5 separate regions of the Homo sapiens genome follow, and all the other regions are linked to region 4. Evidence: fine-mapped expression QTL. A gene starts in region 4. Each other region holds a variant in brackets. All regions are shown on one strand. Distances are from middle to middle. Region 1 has its middle 31 kb from the start of VIPR2. Region 2 has its middle 51 kb from the start of VIPR2. Region 3 overlaps VIPR2 (vasoactive intestinal peptide receptor 2). Region 4 holds the start of VIPR2 (vasoactive intestinal peptide receptor 2). Region 5 has its middle 140 kb from the start of VIPR2.

Region 1 (5,105 bases), 31 kb before region 4:
CTCTTAACCCTTATGAAAATTCTAAAAATGTGAAAATAACTATAAAAAAGGTACTCTTTCAAGTTTGATATCTGTTGATCTCTTCAATGGTTTCCACTGCCAATAAGTTGGAGTAGGAGTAGGTTAGCACAGGTAGCAAATAGCAGTTTAAGTCTGAATCAGCTATGCTTTTCTTTTTTTTTTTTCAGATGGAGTTTTGCTCTTGTTGCCCAGGCTGGAGTGCAATGGCTCAATCTTGGCTCACTGCAACCTCCGCCTCCCAGGTTTAAGCAATTCTCCTGCCTCAGCCTCCTGAGTAGCTGGGATTACAGGCATGTGCCACCACACCAGGCTAATTTTCTATTTTTTTTTTTTAATAGAGACAGGGTTTCTCCATGTTGGCCAGGCTGGTCTCAAACTCCCGAACTCAGGTGATCTGCCTGCCTTGGCCTCCCAAAGTGCTGGAATTACAGGCGTGAGCCACCACGCCCAGCCCAGCTATGCTTTTAAAAACTCAAAAGCAAAGGAAACCTTTATGAAACTCCTATTTCAAAAATAAATTATTGCTCAATGTGTTCCTCTTGGAACCCCTTTTTAGAGGAGAGCAACTTGGACAACCCCTACGCACAGAATGCAACTTAGGAGGAGAAATGTCAGAAGATGTCGGTGAACCTGGCACTGAAAGGAGAGTCAGAATCTGTGTTACAACTCCAAGTAACCTCCTTCTGAATTAGATCTGCTGAAAAGCACTTGTGTTTCATTCAATTTTCCTAACATCAATCTGTCAGGAGATTTGTTCTCATTTCACTTCAGACCATATGGTTTAAATATAGATAGACTCCTACTTTTCTTCTACCTTTCCAGCTAAATATGACTCTATTTTTACTGAAGGGAAAATTCACTGGTGGTCAGAGCATGTCTGCTTTAAGGATGAGTTCATTGCCAAAGAGATGCCTTGGGTGGTCTCACCCTTCCAGCGACATCTTCATTGCCTGCAGCATGGAAGTGTGGAATTTTTACTGAGCTCTCTGATCTCACCAATGCTAGCTTGAGTCAGACTTTATGAGTTATTTCCTTTAAACAATTAGAGAACAAGAGGTCCTGGGTTAACAAAACAAAATAGTAAGACAACTTGCCTTATTGGATTTATGTTAATATCTTTATTTTCTGGTTCAGCCATACAGTTTTCACATCAGCAAAAGTGTTGTTTTTTTCAACTCAACAGAAATTTCCTGACTTCTCTGCTCTTACATGTTTTCAGAGTAAGCTCAAGGGCAACACAAAAATAAGTTTTAGCTTCGTATTTTTCATTATCAAATCTAAATTTTGAACTCAATTTCATCAAAGTGAGATGTAGAATATTTTGATATGGCAATTTCTTTAGCTACGAAACAAGACTTCATGATCTTTATTATGATTAAACTTTATAGCCTCATTAATTTTCCTTCTCTTCAGGTGAACACCCATTTGCTTAGCAATCCAATAATGAGTGCCTTAGGAAGTGTTTAGGGTTAGCCAGTCTTAAGGAAAAGCAACTGAAATTTTTACCCCAAATTGGCAGGAAATAAGTTACTTAAAATATTAAATATGCCTTTTGGGCCCATTTTTCCTGCAGTATAGATTTGTATTTTACAAACTTCATAAAATGATCTAGAGGTGAAGGCTGCTGTCACTAGCTGAAATGGGCTGACACATGATGACACAAAGCAGTGTGGTGTGACATGTGCCCCACTAGGTTACTTAAGTGTGTATGTCACTGAAAGCTGAAGGTCCAGCAGCCGGCCAAGTCCATGGCACCCAGCTGAGAAGCAGGTGTCCCTGAGAACCCCAACATCCTGGGCTGTGTGTGGGGACATAAAGCAAGGAAAACAGCCCCATTGCACACACACTGCAGGCAGAGACCCAGCAAATTAGCTTAAAAGCAGCTTGGAATTGGGAGGTAGGGTGACCTCTAGAGCTGTCCTGCA[A/G]CCATCCAGGAGTGCCCTGTGTGTGAGTCCCAGTAAACTCACCTACTCGTCAGGCTGGACTCATCCGAGCCATTCTTGTCATTCTTTGATCTCTCGGCTCATTCCCAGTTGGGGGGTGAGTTACAGTCCCAAGTTTTTTCTCCTAACAGACAGTTATCTTCACCCAGTTATATTCTCATTTCCCTTCAAATCCCTGCTACTTCTTACCCCCAAGGAAACATAAACAGTGTTTCATAGTCATATATGCTGAAAATATGTCTCCTCTCCAGTGGGCCACGTGAGACATTTAAGTATCAAAAAAATGTACCGAGACCCAAAAAACCTCAGTATTATTGAAATAATTTTTTGGTTAATTAAACAGAGACTAACGAAAACACACATTTATTCAACTTGCTATATGCCAGAAAAGCTAAAGTCCCTTCAGAAGTATTAACTTACTGATTCTGAAGCGTGGCAAGTCCTGGGTCTGGCAGAGCCCTCAGTGCGTTGATGCAGGCGGCAGACACGCAGGTGGAGGCATGAGCAGAGCTGAGATGTTCTGCTAAGAAATTGGAGACATTCAGCAGGGCGTGGAGGAGTTGGAGCTGGATGCAGGTGAGATTTGGAAGCTAAATGGATGACGTGCAGGGAGATGAAGGACACCAGGAATCCTGCTGTGTCAGAAGGAGAACCCACAGGAAATTCGGCAGCCCAGAAGGAGAACCCACAGGAAATTCAGCAGCCCAGGAGAACCCACAGGAAATCCGGCAGCCCAGAAGGAGAACCCACAGGAAATTCGGCAGCCCAGGAGAACCCACAGGAAATCTGGCAGCCCAGGAGAACCCATAGGAAATCCGGCAGCCCAGAAGGAGAACCCACAGGAAATTCAGCAGCCCAGGAGAACCCACAGGAAATCCGGCAGCCCAGAAGGAGAACCCACAGGAAATTCGGCAGCCCAGGAGAACCCACAGGAAATCTGGCAGCCCAGGAGAACCCATAGGAAATCCGGCAGCCCAGAAGGAGAACCCACAGGAAATTCAGCAGCCCAGGAGAACCCACAGGAAATTCGGCAGCCCAGAAGAACCCACAGGAGATTTGGCAGCCCAGAAGGAGAACCCACAGGAAATCCGGCAGCCCAGAAGGAGAACCCACAGGAAATTCGGCAGCCCAGGAGAACCCACAGGAAATCCGGCAGCCCAGGAGAACCCACAGGAAATTCGGCAGCCCAGAAGGAGAACCCACAGGCCTCGTTTTACTGCACTTCCCTTTATTGTGTTTCACAGGTGCTGCTTTTCTCACAAACTGAAGGTTTGTAGCAACCCTGAATTGAGTGAGGCTATAGGTGCCATTTTTCCAACAGCATGTGCTCACTTCATGTTTCTGTGTCACATTTTGATAATTACCATAATATTCCAAACTTTTTCATTATTACAAATGTTATGGTAATCTGTGACTGTTGATCTTTAATGTTACTATTGTAATGGTTTGGGGACCCATATAAGGTGGCCAACTTAATACATGTTGTAAGTTCCAATGGCCCCACCAACCAACCTTCCCCCCATCTCTCTCCCACTCCTTGGGCCTCCCTATTTCCTGAGACTCAAGAATATTTAAATTTGGCAAGTGCCTCTAAGTGCTCACATGAAAGAAAAAGCCACACCTCTCTCACCTTAAATCAAAAGCTAGAAATGGTTAAGCTTAGTGAGGAACCCATGTTGAAAGGCATGAAAGACCGAAATCGAGGCCTGTTGTGAAAAATGGTTAGCCAAGCTGAGAATGCAAAGGAAAAGTTCATGAAGGAAAGTAAAAGTGCTGCCCCAGTGAACAAATAAATGATGAGAAAGCAAAACAGCCTAATCCAGAGGTGACAGGCTGAACTCTCTTCAATTCTGTGAAATCCAAGAGAGGAGAGGAAGCTGCAGAAGAAAAGTTGGAAGCTCACAGGGGTTGGTTCATGAGGTATAAGGAAAGAAGCCATCTCCATAACATAAAGTGCAAGGTGAAGCTGCAGTAAGTTATCTAGAAGATCTAGCTAAGATCAGTGATGAAGGAGGCTACACTAGACAACAGATTTTCAGTGTAGGTGAAGCAGCCAGCTTTTGGAAGAAGATGCCACCTAAGACCTTCATAGCTAGAGAGGAGAAGCCAATGCCTGGCTTCAAAGCTTCGAAGGACAGGCTGAGTCTCTTGTGAGGGGCTAATGCCACTGGTGACTTGAAGTTGAAGTTAATGCTCATTTACTATTCCAAAAATACTAGGGCCTTTAAGAATTATACTAAATCTACTCTACCTGTGCTCTATAAACGGAACAACAAAGCCTGGATGACAACACATCTGTTTACAGCATGGTTTACTGAATATTTTAAGCCCACTGTTGAGACCTACTGCCCAAAAAATATTCCTTTCAAAATATTACTGCTCATCGACAATGCACCTGGTCACCCAAGAGCTCTGATGGAGAATGAATGTTGTTCTCATGCCGGCTGAAACAACAACCATTCTTCAGCCCATGGAGTCATCTAAACTTTTGAGTCTCATTTAAGAAATATATTTCATACATCCGTAACTGCCATAGATAGTAATTCCTCAGATAGATCTGGGCAAAGTAAATTGAAAACCTTTCAGAAAAAAATTCACCACTCTAGATGTCATTAAGAACATTTGGGATTCACGAGAGGGGGTCAAAATATCAACATTCACAGGAGTTTGGAAGAAGTTGATTCCAGCTCATGGATGACCATGAGGGGTTCAAGACTTTGGTGGAGGAAGGAACCAGAGATGTGGTGGAAAGAGCAAGAGAACCAGAGTTAGAAGTGGAGCCTGAAGATGGGACTGAACTGCTGCAATCTCATCATCAAACTTACATGGATAAAAAGATGCTTCTTATGAGTAAGTAAAGAAAATGACTTAAGATGGAATCTACTCCTGGTGAAAATGCTGTGAATATTGTTGAAATGACAACAGAAGATTTAGAATATTAAATAAACCTAGTTGATAAAGCAGCAGCAGAGTTTAGGAGGTTGATTCCAATTTTGAAAGAAGTTCTACTGGGGATAAAATGTTGTCAAACAGCATCATGATAGAGAAAGGTTTTGTGAAAGGAAGAGTCAGTCAATGCAGCCAACTTCATCATTGTTTTAAGAAATTGCCACAGCCATCCCAGCTTTCAGCAGCGCCCAC
Region 2 (5,105 bases), 51 kb before region 4:
CCGGGGGCCCATCCTGAACTTCACCAGGGACAGATTCATTAGCACTTGGGTCTAAATGACAAATAATCAGTGGTTAAAGTCTGTTGACATTTTAGGGGGATCAAAAGTGGTGAAGGAGCTGCCTTCCGGAGGCCTCCAGGCCAGCGGGCCCTCAGCTCTCTCGGTCTCGCTGGGGCCTGCCTCCTTCTCTGGCATAGAAACAGCAGGAGCTCAAAATATTTGAAAAAGGAAGGAAAAGAGGAATAAATAAAGGAAGGAAGGTAAGAAGTAGAGAAGAGAGGTAAGAAGGAGACTGGAACCTTCTGAAATCCCCCCTTGTTGCTGACATTGAGGGGCCCCTCTCCGAGCCACACACACCTTGCAGGTTTGTATTTGTGCCCAATGGACTAGACCCAGTGGCTGAGCCGGGAGGCTGAGGCTGTCTTCCTTCTGTCACACGTGATAACGTGAAAGTGCTGTGCAAATACAGGATGTAAGAACAAGAGAAATTTAGCATTCTCATTCTGCAGTGATATGACTGATAAGTGATATGACTTGCCTTAAAACACAAACTCGAGCTCAGGGCACCCAAAGCCTCTCACTCATCTATCCGTTCACGTATCCCTGGAGCTTCTCCTGCAGGCCAGTGCGAGGAGGCCGTGACCAAAACACGGCTCCTGTCTTCAGGGAGCCTGTGACTTCCCTGGGGAACGAGGTAAACAGGTCATGAAGACGCATAGTAGCTGCTGAGGGAGCTAAATAAAAGCACGTGGGAGGAGCCTCTAACTGGGGAGTTTTTCCTGGGAGGAGTCTGGTGAGCTGAGCCCTAAAGGACCAGAGGGAGGAACCTCTGACTGGGGAGCTTTTCCTGGGAGGAGTCGGGTGAGCTGAGCCCTAAAGGACCAGAGGAAGTCAGCCACGCTAAGGAGCGGGGAAGGCCTGGGGGAGGCTGTTTCTAAGCAGGGAGCAGAATGCACGAAGCCCCCAAGGCCCATGAACTCTGTGGCAAGCCCGGGTGGGCACGACTGGGCTGGCTGCAGTCTCCCTCAGTTCCACCACCCTGTCTGCAAGGAGCAAAGAAACCCCAAAGTACTTTGTTGTCTTAGTAAACACAACAGGTGACTCAGGGTATTACGTCTCTGATTATGATAATTTGTAAAAGTAATAGAAGCACGTTTGAGAAAATGTTGAAAATCAAAGGGGAAAAATATGTACCTTTAATCTTATCACTGAGCATAGTGAACATAGCAATTTAGATATATTTCCTTGTATCCTCTTCTATATACAAAAAGAGTTAATCGTAGTTTATGTACAATTTCATAATTAGATTTTTCACTAACCTTTATAATCACTGGTGTATTTCATACGCGAGGGCCAGCACCATGGCATGCAAACTGGGGCTCAGCCTCCATCTTCCCACATGCAGCGCCGTGAGGGACCCCTGGGATTTGACGTGGAGGCAGGGGTGCCCTTCAGTCTTGCAAACTCACTGAGCACGTGCCAGGCCTGAGCCAGGCGGTGGCAAGAGAGACAGGTGATGCCACAGAGGCACTGACATTCCAGCATGGTGACAGACAAATCAGGTTTTAAAAAGTGACAGAAACTAAGCAAGATGATTACAACATGCAATTTGTGTTGTAATGAAACTATCACAGGATTTTATCAAATGAGATGATAAAGGTTTTATAAATTTGAAAGCCAAATAGAAAATTAATATGATGATGATTTTTATTAGTGACATAGTTCATTTCTAAGATAATTGATAATATGTTTAGACTAAAATTGTCATAAGAAATATTTAATATTAATGGAAACTTATGTTTATTACAGAAGTGGTAAGAAGGAGCAGGCCGGGTGACCTTTCCTGCTGATTTATTACCTTATAAAAGATTCCAGGAAGTATTTTGAAAACACCATTTTCTGGTCTCTTTAAAGCACATATGCTGGGAAAGTGGCCAAGATGCAAACTCTTAAGCTCTTGGAGGATTTCAAATGTATCCCCTCGCTAGGAGGTAGAAAATGGCACATTCTGCCTTTGATCCCCAAAGAGGAGACAAAGTTGTTTTAGAAAAATTGCTTCTCTGGAATTTAACCAGAGTAAAGTGCCCTTGTCAAGGCTGGTTCAGCAAAACGATGGAGCAGGCCACGTTTGTACTCACACAGATGAGCCCTCTTCTTGTGGCTGTTTGTCGCGCTATTTTCTCACTTTCTG[A/G]TAAGATTTTCTCAGCTCAGCTGCTTCTGGTTTCAACACATGGTCATTTCCTGTTTATTTCTTTTAATTGAAACTTCAGTTTTTTACATACTCTCATCATTGTTCATGCAAAGCCTGCTTTTAAAAATTAATTTAAACAATTCAACAACTACCTACTAAAGTTACCCCAAATGAAAAGTAGGGCATTGGAAACGAACCTACATCTGCCTGAATGCCCCCATCCCTCCCTCTCCCCAGATGGCTGATGTCTGTGTCTGGGCTTCCTGCACATATGTGTCTACCTTGGAAGTATGTCCCTAAAAATCATGTGGCTTCAGTTTTAGTTGGTTGTTTTTTTTTTTTTTAATTTTGGGATTTTCACTTGCCAGGCAAAATTAAATTGTTAAAAAATTTTTTCTTTTTCTTTTTCTTTTTTTTTTTTTTTGAGACAGAGTCTTGCTCTGTCGCCCAGGCTGGAGTGCAGTGGCGCCATCTCAGCTCACTGTAACCTCTGCCTCCCGGGTTCATACAATTCTCCTACCTCAGCCTCCCGAGTAGCTGGGACTACAGGTACCAGCCACCACACCCGCCTAATTTTTTGTATTTTTAGTAGAGACAGGGTTTCACTGTGTTAGCCAGAATGGTCTCTATCTCCTGACCTCGTGATCCACCCACCTTAGCCTCCCAAAATGCTGGGATTACAGGTGTGAGCCACCGCACCCGGTCTGATTGTTAAAATTTATGCATCTGATTGCATGTCGCTATATTCTTCACTTGGAGCACTGTAAAATAACGTATGGTTGGAATGTGCAACAGTTTATCCATTTTCCTGTTAGAAGTGATTTGAATTGTTTCCAGATTTTTGCTTTCCTGTGAATGAAACATTTTTGCTGATGCCTTTGGTGCTCACAGGGAATATGAATGCCGCAGCTCCCAGCATAGGGACAAGCTGCTGTCCACAGCAGCAGCTCCAGCTTTATTCCCACCAGGAATGTGCATGGGGTCCAGGCAATCTGCATCTGCCCCTTTGCTTGGTGCCATCAGATGTCACCACTTTTTCCCACTTAAATGACAGTAAAATGTTATCTCTGTGATTTGGACTTGCATTTTCCTGATCACTAAGGATATTCGGCCTCTGCATATATTTGTTGGTTATATGTTCCATTTTTTTGAACTGTGTGCTGCCTTTTGGACACTTGTAATTGAATTATCAGTCCTTTTCTTATTGATTTATAATAGTTCTTTGAATTATAGACACTAAGCCTTTGTGCATTTTGTGCGGAACATATCTGTTTTTATTTTGTAATGTGTTTCCAATTTCTTTAAGGTAATTTGATTTTCTGTTATTGATAACTCTTGTTGGGCTTATTTAAGAAATCTTTGACTACTTCAAAGTTTGGAAGATTTTCACCTGTATTTCCTGTTTTCATTCTTCCTAATGAAATGGAGCAGTGTCAACACATGCACAATTTCTGCTGCATTCTCAAGTTGCACCGAGCAGCAGTTTGGAATTGGTGTGCTGGCTTTACTGAGGCCATATGCTTTTAAAGCTTTTTACCTAACATGGAATGAAAAATCTGGATCCTTAATTGTGTGATTTAAGGTATCAGCGTAAGTGGAAAACATATCGTAGAGAGCTCCTCCCGACCTCTTTCTGTTTACTTGGTGAAAGTGCCCACTTCCTTAGAATGGGTGCTCCCAAAATGTCCAGGGCCTTCTGGGCTCCTGGCCTTCTGGGCTCCTACAGGATGTCTTGGGAACAGTTGACACAGACTCATTCCTCTTCCGTGAGAAACCTTTTCTTGGAGTGACTAAAACAGGGTAGGACTTGGGATCATCCTGCTCTCACCGCTCTTGCTCCAAAATCAGCAAAATTCCTTCTTGCTGTGAAGAGCTTTTCAAAATATCAGATATGAGGCATTATTTTGATTCATCCTAAAAGCAAAATTACTCTGGAGTAGATGGATGCCCTAACTTTGATAATAAGTACATTGCAACTGCAAAAGGAAAATAAAATCTCAGATCCCAAACTCACTACGCCAAAAGGGAAAGTTGAGCTTGGAAACTGAGCCACAAACAACTCCCTTTCCTTCTGTTAAACAGGGACCTCCCCAGGTGGCCTCTCTCACCCTGACAGTGTAAATTAACACCTTATCTTTGTGAGTGCAGGACAATAAATTGTCCCACCACCCACCCTGAGATGAATGCCTGTTCGACTTCTTCCTCCACTCTGTGTGTACTTCATCTCGTGCAAAGTGCAGATTCACTGAGTGAGAGACAGCCACATACTCCGCTGTTCCTCTCCCCTCCTTTCACCTGCAGCTTGTGGATTCACTGAGCACTAATCAAAGCCTCACAAGAATGCAACTTCTTGTCTGATTTTTTTCTACAGAAAAAAATCTTTTTTTCCTTTCCTCCTTCCCCTCCTGCCTGCTTTTCTCCTTTAGGTATTGAGGCCCTCAAAACCCTCTTTGGAAAAAGTATGGGCCACAGGTCCTACTGCAGTCTGTCTCTTTCTCCTGAGTACATCCTCAACCTCGGCAAAATAAACCTCTAAGCTGATTGAGACCCGTATCAGGCACTCTTTGGTTTACACAACATGCAGGCAACTTGCAACATGATTGGAAAGAAATAATGTTAGTGTCCGTTATGCAAAGCCTTCCATTCTAAAAACAACACACACATTGCTTTAGTCATTTCAAGCAGATAAAAAGAAAGGAGTCCAATTTACTGACTAAAAAAATGAAAGCAGATGGATTGCACCTGGGTAAAGTATTCCTTGACTAACAAACCAGGAAATTCCAGGCTGTGTTAACATCCACAAGAGGTAAGCGAGAGTTCAGACCCAGCCTGCTGCCCAGATCCCAGGAGACACTGTCTTCTTTCGAATGTTTTCACATTTTTTGAAGTTTAACACAAATAAGAAAATACCCAA
Region 3 (5,105 bases), 29 kb after region 4:
TCACAGGGGCTTCAGCAGCCCCCCAGCAGGAAGAGAGTGGCTCATCCTTCAGCCCGTTATTTGCTGTGCAAGGGGAGTATTCGATGACTGGGACGCCCCCGGCCTCTCTGAGCTCCCCGTGAGAACCAGCTGGGACTTCCTGCTCTGCCCAGATTCTGGAGGAAGCTTTGTTGTTGTCACTTGAGACATAAGTCAAGCTTTCTTGAGTGGAGGATGCGATTGGAAATATTTGCTTCTAAATGCGTTGGAGGCAAGCTGTCATCCGAGCCGATGGCCAGTCTCAGGAGGCTTTGCTTCTCAGCTTTCCTTTTCCCACTCGCTGGTTCCTAGAGCTGTTCCCCAGCCCTGTCTGGATGAAGCAGCTTCAGCCCTCATGCCCCTCCTCCAAGTCCTGCTGACACTTGGTCACTGATGACAGCAGCAGGGTGGCTTCCCATGACTCGGGCCTCCTGGGCCACCCACCCTCAGCTGCCACTCTCTGTGGAGTTGCATGTGGGGTAGGGGCAGGTGACTCTGAAGATGGAAGGAGGGTGTGGGGGAACCATGGGAAGATCTAGGGCACCACCTCCCAGAGCTGCCCATTGTCCAAAGAGAGCATGAGCTGCGTGGCAAGCATGGTGCAGGTGACAACTGGAGTTGCACCCATCTGTGTCCATGACTCAGGTCAGCAGGTGCAGCCCCACCTCTGAGATGACGTCCTGCATTGCCTTTGTGTGGTGCGGCACTATGTTTCATGTGCTCACTGTTATCCTGTCTGTTCACAGGCCATACAAAGGGATTCATCCTCATTCACGCCGGAGGTTTAAAGAGGATCCTGGACCCACATACCTACCCATTGGCTCCATGACCAGTGCTTTTATAATTACAAAATCATTGAGAAATTAAGTCACAGGAAGCCTCGTGTGTGGTATACACTGGTGATAAAGCAAGTCCCATGCAGTCTGAGATGGCAAGGGACCTTCTAGGGAAAGGGCAGTGACCCAGAAGCCCGACTGCTCGGCTGGCTCCCGCACTCCGTCCTGTGGTCAGAGTGTGTTTCCTCCCCTCTGTGAACCTGGTCTCCTCCCCAGTGTGAGGACAGGGGCTCTCGCCTTCTTCAGGGAGTTGCTGGGAGGACAAAATGGAGTATATGTAAAAGTCATTTCCTAGATAAGGGGGAGCATGTCGTAAGAGTCTCTTGAAATTTAATTGATGTTTATGTCATTGACATTGAAATAATGAGAAAATAAATCCAAATCCAGAGCTCAAAGTAACACCTATAACGTCATCTGTAAGAGCCAGGACTTCCTAGGGAGTCTCTGGACAGAAGGCAGCGTCTTTTATACGGTAGGATTGCAGGTTCCTGTAGGTTCCTCCCCACTCTGTGCGCACTCCCCTTTGGCTGGAAGGTGTCACATAATTGAGTTACTGCTGTGTTCCTCAGAATTCCACCTGGAGGAATTCCCAGCATACCGGTAAGAACTTGTTCAAGCAGCAGCCTTTCCCAAACCCTGTGTATTCCGTTGAAAATGCTGTGAAGCCTCAGAAATGTCGGAAGGCTGCACCATCACAGGGTCCGTTTTTCTGAACGACTTAGTCTACAGTGTCTTTTTCAGGAGACTAAGCTGATTTTCAAGCAAAAATTAGGAAGCCACCACTGCCAGTCTACATTGAAAAGTCACTCATTGCCTGGAAGCTTCCAGCCCCCTGACCAGCCCCTGTGACTGACCACCGGTCACTGCCCACTCTGCCCACTTGCTTTCCCAAATGCACTGACCATGCGGGCACTGACCATGCCGGTGCCAACCCACTGCAGTGCCCTCTGGAGGGCCCATGTGACTCTGCTCTGCCAGCTGTTTGCTTCCCAGGAAGATTTGCTCCTGGTTATGTGTGGCTATGGCACAAATCTCCTGAAACTT[G/A]GCTTCAAAATTAGTAGTTGGCTCCTCCCAAGGCTCTGAGGTTGGCCCAAAAGGTTCTGCCCACGTCACCCAAGCTGTTCCTTTCCTACATTCAGCAGGTGCCTAAGCCTTCTCCCTGCAGCCTTTCCGACCAGGGCTCCCACCAACTGCTCCAGCCCTTCCGTGATGACCACCTTCCAGAAGGAAGAGCCTGTCAGTCCGAGGGGTCAGCACAGGTCACGGGGCCACATAGCAGGGTGGGGACAAGACCCCATGTCCAATGGGTGGAGCTCACAGCAGCCCTGGGAGACCTTGCTGTTCACAAACAAATCGATGCCTCACACCTGCTGCCTGACTACTTAGCTAAACGCAGCCTAAGCTGGTATATGAAAGGAAGCACGTGGCCCCAGGAAGCTGACTTGAGTGCTTAGGAAAGACTAGAAGCAGCAACGGAATCGGAGGTGAGAAGGGCAGCTAGAGGGCGTGGGGCAGCTCGGACACCAGCTTTGCCAGCCTGAGTTCCTCCATTCCCAGCACCCTGACCTTGGAGGCTGCAGGCAGCACGTCAGGGGCGTGATCTGAAAAGGCCAAGGGACGACCCAGCCAGCAAGCCTGAGCTCAGGGGCTTTGGTGACACATTCTAAGCACTAGTGGTGACACACCTTGCTGTGTTCTAATTAAGGTGAGACGTCCAAAGCAGACAGATTGAAGTCCTGTTTCAGCCAGGCTTGCCTGCCAAGCCCTGACCATGACTTTGGGTGAGAGGCTGCTGAGATCAGAGGAGGCTCCTTCTCTACCCCTCTGCCAAGTTTTGAAAGAGGAAGATTGGGGTGATAAGTGAAACAACTTTATCATTTATATTGATTCAAAGGTATTTTGGATTATTTACATGGGACATTTTAGCCGAAGAACAATGACCCAGAGAAGCGGCTCCTCTGAGCTTCTGCCTCGGTGTGCGAGCCAAAGGGTTTCATTGCTCTTTTCTCTCTCTTTTTGCTTCTTGATTTGTGAGACAGGTTTGCTGGGTTTATGTTGCATTTGTCTAACTCTGACCCTAGACAGTGCTGTCGAGTAGAATTTCCCATGGTAGTGGAAATGCTGGTGTGATGGCTACCAGCCAAGTTCCACTGCGGAGCATTCAAATGCGGCGGCTGCAACTGAGGAACCAAACCTTTAACTGCATCTCCTTTTAATTAGCTTTCATTTAAATGGCCATGTGAGGCTAGTGGTTGCCATATAGAAAGTACAGTTCTAGGGTTTTTTCTCTACTTTTTACCAATTTATACCTCTTAGTTCTTCTTTCATCTGCTGTTTTAGCTGCAACTTATGACACATTGTTGAATAATAATGAATTGCAGGTACCCAACCTGGCTCCTCAGTTGTACAATTCTGTTTAAACATGTCTAATACTTGCTCTTTCTCTTTTTCTTCCCTCCCCGCTCCCTCCCTCCCTCCCTTCTTCCTTCCTTTCTCTCTCCCTCTCTCTCTTTCTATTCTTTCTTTCCTCTTTTTTTTCTTTGAGACAGGGCCTCACTCAGTCACCCGGGCTTGACTCAAGCTCCTGGGCTCAAGCAATCCTCCTACCTCAGCCTCCTGGGTGGCTGGGACTGCAGGTACTTACCACAGTGCCTGGCTTAATGCTTGCTATTTTTAACAAATATTCTCTGTGATGTTAAGGGAGTCTCATTATTTTACTATTTTATTTAGGGTTTTAAAAAATTAGAAATGGCCACTGAATTTTACCAAGTAACTTTTCAGAGTCTATTGATACATTTTCCACTTTTCAGAGCGACCTTTGATTTTATGATCACCATCTGGAAAACCTAGGTTGCCACCAGAGCTTAACAAGTCCCATTTCCCTGACTGCCTTATCCGAGCACTTTTGTTTGTTTCTCACTCCATCTGCAAATCCTTTGTTTCATGAAATCTCAGCTGCCCACTGCTTTCCAAACAGACAGGCGTCTCCAAGTGGCTGTGCTTCTCTCGGGGGTGGCCCTGCCTGCCTCCCCTTCTCCTCCCATGCCGTCCTGTGCCTCGGCGCACACTCCTACAGAAGGACTTGCTGCCTCTCCCAAATTCGCTGCCTCTCCCAAAGGGTTCACTGTGCCAAATTTGAATCACTTATGTCCAACACTGAACTGATGACCTATTCATGCACTATTTTGCTTTGGCCTGCACAATGTTCCTTAAAAATGTAAACATTTAAAAATGGGTATCTTAATATAATGATACACTTTAAATGCTAGTTTTCAACAGAGTGCATTTATAAAATTGTAAAAGGCAAATGATACTACAAGGCTGTATGAAGATAATAGTCTCCGGCCCCTCGTCATCCCCAGTTCTCAGCCCTATGGCAGCATCTCTTTCATCTCTTCTCTGGTATTTATTTTATTTCTAAACAGCATACTTATGCTCCTGTTTCTTTTCTTTCTTCCTCCCAATTTACATCCCAGTGTCCATTAGATTTCTAACAAGAATAAAGATCTATCTCTCCTGTGCCATTCCCACCACCCAAGTATAATTTATCATCCTGCCAGCCTCCTGATAGACTCACTTCACATTGCTGGTGTACATCATTGCCATCACAGTTGAGCCACATAATATCCAGCATTTCCTTTCTTCATAACTTTATGCTTTTCCTCGTTTTTCTGTTGCTGGGTTTTTCACCTACCTCTCAATAATTAGGCATCAAACCTCAGGCCAGAACACTCTCAAGACACTGCACTGAGGTGGTCTCAGGGTTCCATTTTTTCTCTTGTAGCAGGACGAGCTGCAGACAAAACCCCTCAGACACCGAGATGGTGAAGGGAGTGGCTTTAATCAGCTGGAAGCATTGGCAGACTAGCGTCTTAAAATCCGAGCTTGTCAGGTGCACAATTTTTGTCCCTTTTAAGGGCTCACAACGCTAAGGGTTTCACATGAAAGGGTCATGATTGATTGAGCAAGCCAGGGGGTATGTGACAGGGGCTGCATGCACGGGTGGTCAGAGTGAAACAGAACAGACCGGGAAGTTTCACAGTGTCTTTCTATACAATGTCTGCAATCTATAGATAACATCAGTTGCTAGGTCAGGGGTCAAATTTTAACTACCAGGCTTAGGTCAGGCAGGTCCAGGCCTGGTGTCGGGTCTGGTTCCTAGGCGCTGGGCTACCTGCCTTTAGTTTCGCTTCTGTTTCCTTTTCTGAGTATAAAACAATCTAAAACAATGTGAGAGGGTCTGTCTCTCTT
Region 4 (5,105 bases):
AAGGCCCAGGTCTCCCTCTCCTCGTCTCCCACTAGATACACATGGATGAAGCCAGATAGATAACAGGTAGAGGATAGATGACAGGCAGATGACAGATAGGCAGATGATAGATGATCGATAGATGACAGGCAGATGATGGATGACAGGCAGATCACAGATATGATAGATCACAGATAGATGACAAATAGGCAGATGATAGATGACAGGCAGATGACAGATAGGCAGATGATAGATGACTGATAGATGACAGGCAGATCACAGATATGATAGATCACAGATAGATGACAAATAGGCAGATGATAGATGACAGGCAGATGACAGATAGGCAGATGATAGATGACTGATAGATGACAGGCAGATCACAGATATGATAGATCACAGATAGATGACAAATAGGCAGATGATAGATGACTGATAGATGACAGGCAGATCACAGATATGATAGATCACAGATAGATGATAAATAGGCAGATGATAGATGACAGGCAGATGACAGATAGGCAGATGATAGACTGATAGATGACAGGCAGATGACAGATAGGCAGATGATAGATTGATAGATGACAGGCAGATGACAGATAGGCAGATGATAGGTGATTGATAGATGCCAGCCAGATGACAGATAGGCAGATGATAGGTGATTGATAGATGACAGCCAGGTAGATCACAGATATGCCGGATCACAGATGATGGATAGGCAGATGATAGATGACAGATAATAGATGATAGATTACAGATAGACGATCGATAGGAAGATAATAGATGATAGGTACATGACAGATCATAGATAAATGACAGAGAGGTAGATGATAGATGATAAATAGGTAGATGGTAGGTAATAGATAGGTAATAGATCGCAGAGAGATGATAGGTAGATGATAGCTGATTGATACATGATACAGAGATGATAGGTACATGATAGATGGATAGATCATAAATGACAGCAGATGATAGATGATAAATAGGTAGATGACAGGTTATAGATAGGTAAATTACAGATGAAAGATAGGCAAATGATAGATGATAGGTACATAATAGATGGATAGATCATAGATAATAGATGACAGGTAGGTGATAGAGGAAAGGTGGATGATAGATGATAGGCGCATGATGATAGATACCTGACAGATGGATAGATGAAAGGTAGATGATGGACAGGTAGATGATAGATGACAGATAATAGATGACAGATTACAGATAGATGATCGATAGGAAGATGATAGATGATAGGTACATGACAGATCGATAGATGATACGTAGATGATGGATAGGTAGATGATAGATAATGTGGATGATAAACATCAGATGATAGAAAAATCGATATCTGTGAATACGGGGGGTGGGGGATCAGAGAGAAGCAAATGATAAGCCCAATGAGGTAAATGTTAATGACCGAATCCACAAAAAGGATAAAAAGGAGTTATTTGTAATATTCTTATTCTTCTAATTTTTGTGTAAGTTTGAAATTATTTCCAAATAAAAAATTAAAACAACACGAACTTAACTTGTATCTCTCATTCCAGTGCTTTCCACTTGCTGGGGAACGCCGAGCTCTCCTGGGTTGGTCACGCGGGCGCCTTGGGAGGCCGCGCAGTCCCGCGTGGGGCGCGGCGGGGCGGCCCCAGTGGCACCGCGTGAGTCCCCGCCCAGCGTTCCCCACCCGCCGCCGCGTTTGCGGGGAGAGAATGACCCCCGTTTTGCAAACGCAGGACACAAAACCCGCCACCCAGCTGAGGCTGGGACCCACCTATACCCCCGTCTGCGTTTTTCTCCAGCTTTCTGTTCGACCTGATGTCCTCTTTGAGGCTGCGGGGATCCCCACCAAAAAGCACTCTGATTTTCTCCATTTTCAGATGCCCCAACCTAGCCCCACTGGCTACAAAGACGGCGCGCCCACCCCGGACGGGTCTCTGGCCGCTTTCTTGGGCTTCCGCAGTTGTTTAGAAAGGCAGGTACAGGCGGCCGCAAAGGCATCCGCCCCTTCCGAGCGCACACCTGGCCCGGTCCTCCTCTCCCGGCCCCGCGCCGGCCGCTCTCCCCCAGTTCTCTCTACTCGGAGCCGGGCGCGCACTGAGCACCCCGCTTCCCAGCCCCTCCGCCCACAGATCGGGGAGGCGCGGCCGGGAGGGGGGCGTGGGCCAGGGAAGAGGGGAGGAGAACGGAGAGAGAGGCTGGGGGGGTCGAGGAGACCAGAGGGAGCGCGCGCGGCGGGGACAGAGAGCCCAGGGGCGAGGAGAGGGCGCGGGGCGCAGCGGAAGGGGAAGTGGGGGGCGGTGAGGAGGGGCGCGGAGCGGGGGTTCTCGGGGGAGGAGGGAGACGAGGATTGGGGCAGCGCGGGGCGGGGACAGGGGCGGGGGGCGGAGCGGCGGGGCGCGTGGGGGACGGGCGTGCATTGAGCGCGCTCCAGCTGCCGGGACGGAGGGGGCGGCCCCCGCGCTCGGGCGCTCGGCTACAGCTGCGGGGCCCGAGGTCTCCGCGCACTCGCTCCCGGCCCATGCTGGAGGCGGCGGAACCGCGGGGACCTAGGACGGAGGCGGCGGGCGCTGGGCGGCCCCCGGCACGCTGAGCTCGGGATGCGGACGCTGCTGCCTCCCGCGCTGCTGACCTGCTGGCTGCTCGCCCCCGTGAGTGCGCCCGCGACCCCCGCCCCACGGCGCCTCGGACCCGGTTCTCCCCTTCCGAGAAGAGCGCTCCTCCCGCCGGTCTTCGCCTTCCTCCCGGGTGCTGGAGCGCGGGCGGGGTCCGGGAGAGGGAGCGGGGTCGCCCGGGGTCCGGAGCTTCCTCCCGGAGAGCGTGAAGCGCTGAGCTCCGGTCCCGCCGGGTTGCGGGACTCGGGTTGGGAGGCTGCCTGCGCCCTTCCCCGCGCCCCACCGTCCGGGGTTTGCTGGAAACGGGATCGTTTCTTCCTGGACGCGTCAACGATGAGCTCGTTCGGGGCCGTCCCGGGAGCTGGGAGCTGCGGGCGCCTGCGCGGGCTGCGCGTTTCACGGGGAGATCGGGGTTGGCGTTGGCCGCAGATGCCTCTCGGTCCCTCCCTGTACTTACTGGTTAGTTTTAGTGTCGGGGGGACGTGGCGTCGGTTAAATAAAGTTTCCTTTTGGAAATAGTTGCTTTTTCCCAAGGGCACTGGAGGAACTAACTGCTCATAAGTTTGTTGATTAAGTGCCTTCGCACATGGAGTTCTGAATTATTCCCTCTGTGAACCTTAAAAAAAAAGGAAAGAAAAAAGAAAGAAAAAAACCCGAGCCTTGTTTCTTGCTTTCCTCTTGGAGACTGAAGCGGGTTTGCGGTGCGCGCGGTTTTCGTGCGCGTCGCAGCCGAGGCAGGTCTGGATCGATCCGCGGCCCCTCCGCAGCTGGGAGGCTGCGCTGCTGACCCGACAGTGTCATTGATTAACCGGCGACGCCCGGTCTGCAGCGGGGCTCGAGCCACACTCCCTGGCCTTGCGCGGAGGCGCAGCTCGGCTTTCCTCCCTCGAGGGTGGGCGCTTTGCGGAGCGGGTCCTTGGAAAGTAACGGGTTTTATCACGGTTAATGCTGCTTTCATTGCTAAAATGTCCTAAAAGAAGTCATTGCTGTGCATATTCCAGGAACGTCAGGTATTATTAATGTCTTTTACACTTTAACAAAGTTTTTCTTTTTACATCAATATAATTTCCTTAATTCTGAAATTTAAGCCACTTACTTGTCCTGCATGAAAACAGAGGACTTGGAGCCCAAAGTCAGTGCCTGGTGCTGGTTCAGTCACGAGCAAGAAGCAAGCTCGGGGCTCTTTTAAATGGGGCTGAAGGTGGCAGAAGTTCCAGCATTGTTTTCCCCTTAATTCTGTTAGGATATTGTGTTCCTGGTTGGAACTCTCATTGACCATTTCAATAGTAAGATAACTAAACATAGATGGCCATAGTACGCCCAACAGTATGATTCTCTTTAGTTACTACTTTAGTACAAGTAGAATTTTGGTCGGTGGTGGGGGAGGGGGAAGATCAAGACCAAAAGGATGGGTGGGGGGAGCCCTCCTTAAGCCCCCAAGGGCCGCTTGGCAGGCCTGTGCTGACTTCGCGGAGGGCGTGAAGAACAAGGTAGAAACGGTGCCTTCTGAGAGGAAGCATTGTGTAGTTCTGCCTTCTTCTCACATTAGTAGACTGTTAATTACTATCTTTGTGGCACCTTTCGCTCCCCTGATGGATCCTGACTGGAAATCGCCCCCTCTTCTCTGTGGGGCCACAATGGTGTGATTCCCCCACCTCTGCCTCCCTCCTCATCTTGCTGATTTCTTTGAATATCTCTTCCACCCCAAATTCTAGTCAAAACGATTGCAGTTTTATCTGTAGTTAGAGGGTTAAGCTTTGAACATGTACCAACACCTTTAAAAATAAAGCCCTTCTATCACGGCTCTTTCCCGGGTGGAGGCCGTCCTCGGAGGAAGCGGCACAGTCCACAGGCATCCGCTTAAACCAAACCAAAGGGTGTGAAACGGAGGAGCCGGGTATGGAGAGATGAATGGAGTAAAGAGCTCTGTTGCCTCCAAATTAGTACCGATGTATTCTGTTAGTAAGTTCATTTTCCTGCTCAGAAAAAAAATTCTATTAGATTTTGTGTTTGTTTTATAATACCTTTACAAAGTAAATAGTGAAGTTTTTAAAAAATGCCAGAAAAATCAAGGTGATTGGTTTTAAATGCATTTTGGTTTGGAAGCAGTTTAAAGCTGTGAGGTTTGGGGTTGTTTTTGTAGAATTTTTGCTTGCTTTTCTTCTTCTTGTGGAATTTTTAGTTATTAATATTTCTTTTAACCGTGAACAGGTGAACAGCATTCACCCAGAATGCCGATTTCATCTGGAAATACAGGAGGAAGAAACAAAATGTGCAGAGCTTCTGAGGTCTCAAACAGAAAAACACAAAGGTAAGGCAGAGGCTTGGTGAGTAAGAACTCCCGTGACATTCTCACCCGGGAATGCGCCTCACTCAGCTGTGGTTCAGGGTCACCACCTGCATCTTAAAAAAAAAAAAAGAAAAAGAAAGGCCACTTCCCATTGTTTGTTAATGAACTACTGGTAAAACTCAGAGAGAGTTGGATAGGTAGGGTCTTCACACACACCTTTAAAAAGA
Region 5 (5,105 bases), 140 kb before region 4:
ACTGGCCTGAAGTTCTCTTTTTTTTGTTGTGTCTCTGTCCGGTTTTGGTACAGAATGACGCTGGCTTCATAAAATGAGTTAGGGAGGAGTCCCTCCTTTTCAATTGTTTGGAATAGTTTCAGAAGAAATGGTACTAGCTCCTCTTTGTACCTCTGGTAGAATTCAGCTGTGAATCCATCTGGTCCTGGGCTTTTTTTTTTTTTTTTTGGTTGATAGTCTATTAATTACTGCCCCAATTTCAGAACTTGTTATTGGTCTATTCAGGGATTCAACTTTTTCCTGGTTTAGTCTTGGGAGGGTGTATGCATCCAGGAATTTATCCATTTTTTCTAGATGTTCTAGTTTATTTGCATAGAGGTGTTTATAGTAGCTAGTGGTCTATCTATTTTGTTAATTTTTTCAAAAAAACAGCTCCTGGATTCATATATTTTTTTGGAGAGTTTTTTGTGTTTCTATCTCCTTCAATTCTGCTCTGATCTTAGTTATTTCTTGTCTTCTGTTAGCATTTGGATTAGTTTGCTCTTGCCTCTCTAACTCTTTTAATTGTGATGTTAGGGTGTTGATTTGAGATCTTTCTAGCTTTCTGATGTAGCCATTTAGTGCTATAAATTTCCCTCTTAACACTGCTTTAGCTGTGTCCCAGAGAATCTGGTATGTTTTCTCTTTGTCCTCATTGGTTTCAAATAACTTCTTGATTTCTCCCTTAATTTCTTTATTTACCCAGGAGTCATTCAAGACCAAGCTGTTCAATTTCCATGAAATTGTGTGGTTTTGAGTAAGTTTCTTAATCCTGAGTTCTAGTTTGATTGCACTGTGGTTGGAGAGACTGTTTGTTATGCATTTGCTGAGGAGTGTTTTACTTCCAATTATGTGGTCGCTTTTAGAATAAGTGCCATGTGGCACTGAGAAGAATGTATATTCTGTTGATTTGGGGTGGAGAGTTCTATAGATGTCTATTAGGTCCACTTGATCCAGAGCTGAGTTCAAGCCCTGAATATCCTTGTTAATTTTCTGTCTCATTGATCTGTCTAATATTGACAGTGAGGTGTTAAAGTCTCCCGCTACTGTTGTGTGTGAGTCTAAGTCTGTTCGTAGGTTTCAAAGAGCTTGTTTTATGAATCTGGGTGCTCCTGTATTGGGTGCATGTATATTTAAAATAGCTCTTCTTGTTGCATTGATCCCTTTACCATTATGTAATGTGTTTCTTTGTCTTTTTCAATCTTTGTTGGTTTAAAGTCTGTTTTGTTAGAGACTAGGGCTGCAACTCCTGCTTTTTCTTTTTCTTTTTTTCTTTCTTGTTTTTTTTTTTTTTTTTTTTTTTTGCTTTCCATTTGCTTGGTACATTTTCCTCCATCCCTTTATTTTGAGCCTATGTGTGTCTTTGCATATGAGATGGGTCTCCTTAATACAGCCCACAAATGGGTCTTGACTCCTTATCCAATGTGCTAGTCTGTGCCTTTTAATTGGGGCATTTAGCCCATTTACATTTAAGGTTAGTATTGTTATGTGTGAATTTGATCCTATCATCATGTTGCTATCAGGTTATTTTGCTCACTAGTTGATGCAGTTTCTTCATAGTGTCATTGGTCTTTATATTTTGGTGTGTCTTTGCAGTGGCTGGTACCAGTTTTTCCTTTCCATATTTAGTGCTTCTTTCAGGAGCTCTTGCAAGGCAGGCCTGGTGGTAAGAAAATCCCTCAGCATTTGCTTGTCTGGAAAGGATTTTATTTCTCCTTTGCATATGAAACTTAGTTTGGCTGGATATGAAATTCTGGGTTAAAAATTATTTTCTTTAAGAATGTTGAACATTTGCCCCCAGTCTCTTCTGGCTTGTAGTTTTCTGCTGAGAGGTCTGCTGTTAGTCTGATGGGCTTCCCTTTGCAGGTGATCTGGCTTTTCTCTCTGGCTGCCTTTAACATTTTTTTCTCATTTCAACTTTGGAGAATCTGAAGATTATGTGTCTTGGGGTTGATCTTCTCATGGAATATCTTAGTGGTGTTCTCTGTATTTCCTCAATTTGCATGTTGGCCTGTCTTGCTAGGTTGGGAAAGTTCTCCGGATAATATCCTGAAATGTGTTTTCCAGCTCATTTCCATTCTCCCTGTCTCCTTCTGGTACTCCAATCAATTGTAGGTTCAGTCTTTTTATGAAGTCCCATATTGGGGTCTTTGTTCATTCCTTTTCATTCTTTTTTCTCTAATCTTGTCTGCATGTCTTATTTCAGTAGGGTGGTCTTCAAACTCTGACATCCTTTCTTCTGCTTGGTAGATTCGGCTATTGATATTTGTGTATGCTTCACGAAGTTCTCGTGCTGTGTTTTTCAGCTCTATCAGTTCATTTCTGTTCCTCTCTAAACTGGTTCTTCTAGTTAGAAGCTCCTCTAACCTTTTATCAAGTTTCTTAGTTTCTTTGAATTGGGTTAGAACATGCTCCTTTAGCTCAGTGGAGTTTTTTATTACCCATCTTCTGAAGCCTACTTCTGTCAATTCATCCATCTCATCCTCTGTCCAGTTCTTTGCCCTTGCTGGAGAGGCATTGCAATCATTTGGAGGAGAAGAGGTACTCTGGCCTTTTGGGTTTTCAGGTGTTTTTTTGTTGATTCTTTCTCATCTTCATGAGTTTGTCTAGTTCCGATATTTGAGGCTGCTGACCCTTGGATGGGCTTTTGTGGGGACATTTTGTTGTTGATGATGCTGTTGTTGCTTTCTGTTTGTTTTTCTTTCAATGGTCTGGTCCCCTTTCTGTAGGGCTGCTGTGGTTTGCTAGGGATTCACTTGAGGCCCTATTCATCTGGTTTGCTCCTGCACCTGAGCTGTCACTCAAGAAGACTGGAGAACAGCAAAGATGGGTGCTTGCTCCTTCTTCTA[A/G]GATCTCTGACCTCGAGGGGCACCAATCTGATGCCAGTAGGATTGCTTCTGTATAAGGTATCTGACAACCCCTGTTGGAGGGTCTCACCCAGTTGGGTGGTACAGGGAACAGAACCTGTTTAATGAAGCACTTCGATTGTCTCTTGGTGGAGAGGGTGTGCTTCACTGAGGGGAAATCCACTCATCTGGGCTGCCCGGATTCCTCAGAACTACAGAAAGAAAGGTTAAGTCTGCTGGTCCGCAGAGACTGCGGCCACCCCTCCCCTAGGGGCTCAGGCCCATGGAGATTTGGGTTCTGTCCCTGAGCCTCTGGTTGGAGTTATTGGAGTTCCTGCAGGGAAGCCCCACCCAGTGAGGAGGGATGTGTCAGGGTCAGGCCTGAAGAGGTGCTCTGGCCACAGTCTGCAACAGCCAGTGTGCTGGGCTGTGGAGGACATCTCTTGGGGACCAAGCCATCCAGCATCTCTGGCTCCAGCATGGGAAAAGCATGGCCTGGAACTATAGAGATGGATGCCACTCTTCCCCCACCTAGGGAGCTTAGCATGTTAGGCAGTTATGAGTCCCAGTGCTGGCTGCTGCCCCTCCCACAGGAGCTCAAATGGCTTAGGCAGTAGGTAGCCACAGCTGTGGTGCTGGTCACCTCTTCCCCTGGGAGCTCAGCAGACTTAGGCAGATTCCAGTTGAGAGGCTGTTGAGAGTCTGCGTGGCTCCTGGGTTGGGACCCTAGGCCCTGGTGGCGTGGGTTCACAAGTGGGATCTTCTGATTCATGGGTTGCACAATTCCATGGAAAAAGGACGTTTTCCCCAGTTGGGTAGCATGCTCACTCACTGTCTCCCTTGGCTGGCAGGTGGGGGCTCCCCTGTCCTGTGCAGCTCTCAGTTGGGCCGTTGCACCACACTGCTTTTCCTTCCTTGCTGTGGATCATGTCAGCCGCCTAGTCAGTTCTGATGAGAAGACCTGGATACCTTGGTTGCTGGTGAAGGATTCACATGCTAATTACGGTTCTTTATGATGGAAGCCTCTGATAGCTGCTGTTTCTAGTTGGTCTTTTTAGCCCTGCCCCTACCTTACTCAGATTCTAAGTACCTATAGGTACATGGGTCTGTTTGGGGACCTAATTCTATCTCCCAGTCTGTTTGTTCTTGAACAAATATCATGCTGTTTGAATCACTGTAACTTTATACTATGTTCTGATATTTATGGAGTCTTAATTGCCTTATTAAAAATTTTTTTGGGGGTCAGGTGCCTATAATCTTTGGAAGGCTGAGGCAGGAGGATAGAGGAGGATAGAGCTTGAGCCCAGGAAACCTACCTGGGCAACATGGTGAGACCTCATCTCTACAAAATATTTTAAAATTAGCTGAACATGGTGACACATGCTAGTGGTCCCAGCTACTCAGAAGTCTGAGGCTGGAGGATCACTTGAGCACAGGGGGTTGAGGCTATAGTGAGCCATGTTCACACAACTGCTCTCCAGCCTGAACAACAGAAAGAGACCCTGTAAAAAGGGGGAAAAATTGGCATTTTAAATTTAGTTATTCTTCCAGATGAGCTTAATTTTTTTAAAAAGAAACAATGTATTTTTGCATTAAAATGTATATGTTCTCTCAAGAGAATGAACATATATACATACTTCCCCAAGCAGATAAGTGGTGTCTCCATTTATTCAGATCCTATTTTGCCTTAATAGTTTTTTCATCTTCCTTATATAGATCTTGTACCTTTCTTGTTAAATTTGTTAAGTACTATTCTAAACCTTAGAACCTAGACTAATATTGAACTATATTATATATTTACATATTGTCTTAGTCAATTTTGTGCTGCTATCACAGAATATCACAGACTGGCAAATTTGTAAAGAGCAGAAATGTATTTTTTCACAGTTTAGGAGGCTGGGAAGTCCAACATCAAGGCACCAACAGATTCAGTTGTCTGGTGAGGGCTGCTCTCTGTTTCCAAGATGGCACCTTGTTGCTGTATCCCCTCTAGAGGGGAGGAACACTGTATCTTCACATTGCAGAAAACAGAAGGGCAAGCAAAACAGATTCCCTCCATGAAGCCCTTTTATAAGGCGGCCTAATTTCATTCAGGAAAGGTGGAGCCCTCATGACCTAATCACCTCTTAAAGACCCCACCTCTTAATATCTTTACTTTGGCCGTCAAGCATCAATACCTGAATTTTGGAGGGAACACATTCAAACCATAGTACAATGTATAAGAACTAAGTATTACTTGAA

The links. PIP is the estimated chance that this variant, and not a neighbour inherited with it, causes the effect.
Region 1: its variant is fine-mapped to the expression of VIPR2 in whole blood (TOPMed, PIP 0.92).
Region 2: its variant is fine-mapped to the expression of VIPR2 in whole blood (TOPMed, PIP above 0.99).
Region 3: its variant is fine-mapped to the expression of VIPR2 in whole blood (TOPMed, PIP above 0.99). The same link has a PIP of 0.9 or more in pancreas.
Region 5: its variant is fine-mapped to the expression of VIPR2 in whole blood (INTERVAL, PIP 0.97).

The regions. Positions count from the first base shown.
Region 1 is chr7:159,173,350-159,178,454 of GRCh38, reverse strand. No RefSeq gene overlaps it. Among named protein-coding and RNA genes, the nearest start is that of VIPR2, 31 kb to the right of the region's middle. The variant A/G (reference allele first, on the strand shown) is at 1,947.
Region 2 is chr7:159,193,100-159,198,204 of GRCh38, reverse strand. No RefSeq gene overlaps it. Among named protein-coding and RNA genes, the nearest start is that of VIPR2, 51 kb to the right of the region's middle. RefSeq lists a silencer at 751-820 and an enhancer at 931-1,040. The variant A/G (reference allele first, on the strand shown) is at 2,192.
Region 3 is chr7:159,113,066-159,118,170 of GRCh38, reverse strand. All of the region lies in intron 2 of VIPR2 (vasoactive intestinal peptide receptor 2), which reads left to right. Among named protein-coding and RNA genes, the nearest start is that of VIPR2, 29 kb to the left of the region's middle. RefSeq lists an enhancer at 4,748-5,105. The variant G/A (reference allele first, on the strand shown) is at 1,899.
Region 4 is chr7:159,142,240-159,147,344 of GRCh38, reverse strand. VIPR2 (vasoactive intestinal peptide receptor 2) reads left to right here and starts at 2,478. Exons shown (of 13, transcript NM_003382.5): 1 at 2,478-2,624; 2 at 4,800-4,899. The coding sequence starts at 2,574. RefSeq lists an enhancer at 1-680.
Region 5 is chr7:159,283,067-159,288,171 of GRCh38, reverse strand. No RefSeq gene overlaps it. Among named protein-coding and RNA genes, the nearest start is that of VIPR2, 140 kb to the right of the region's middle. The variant A/G (reference allele first, on the strand shown) is at 2,868.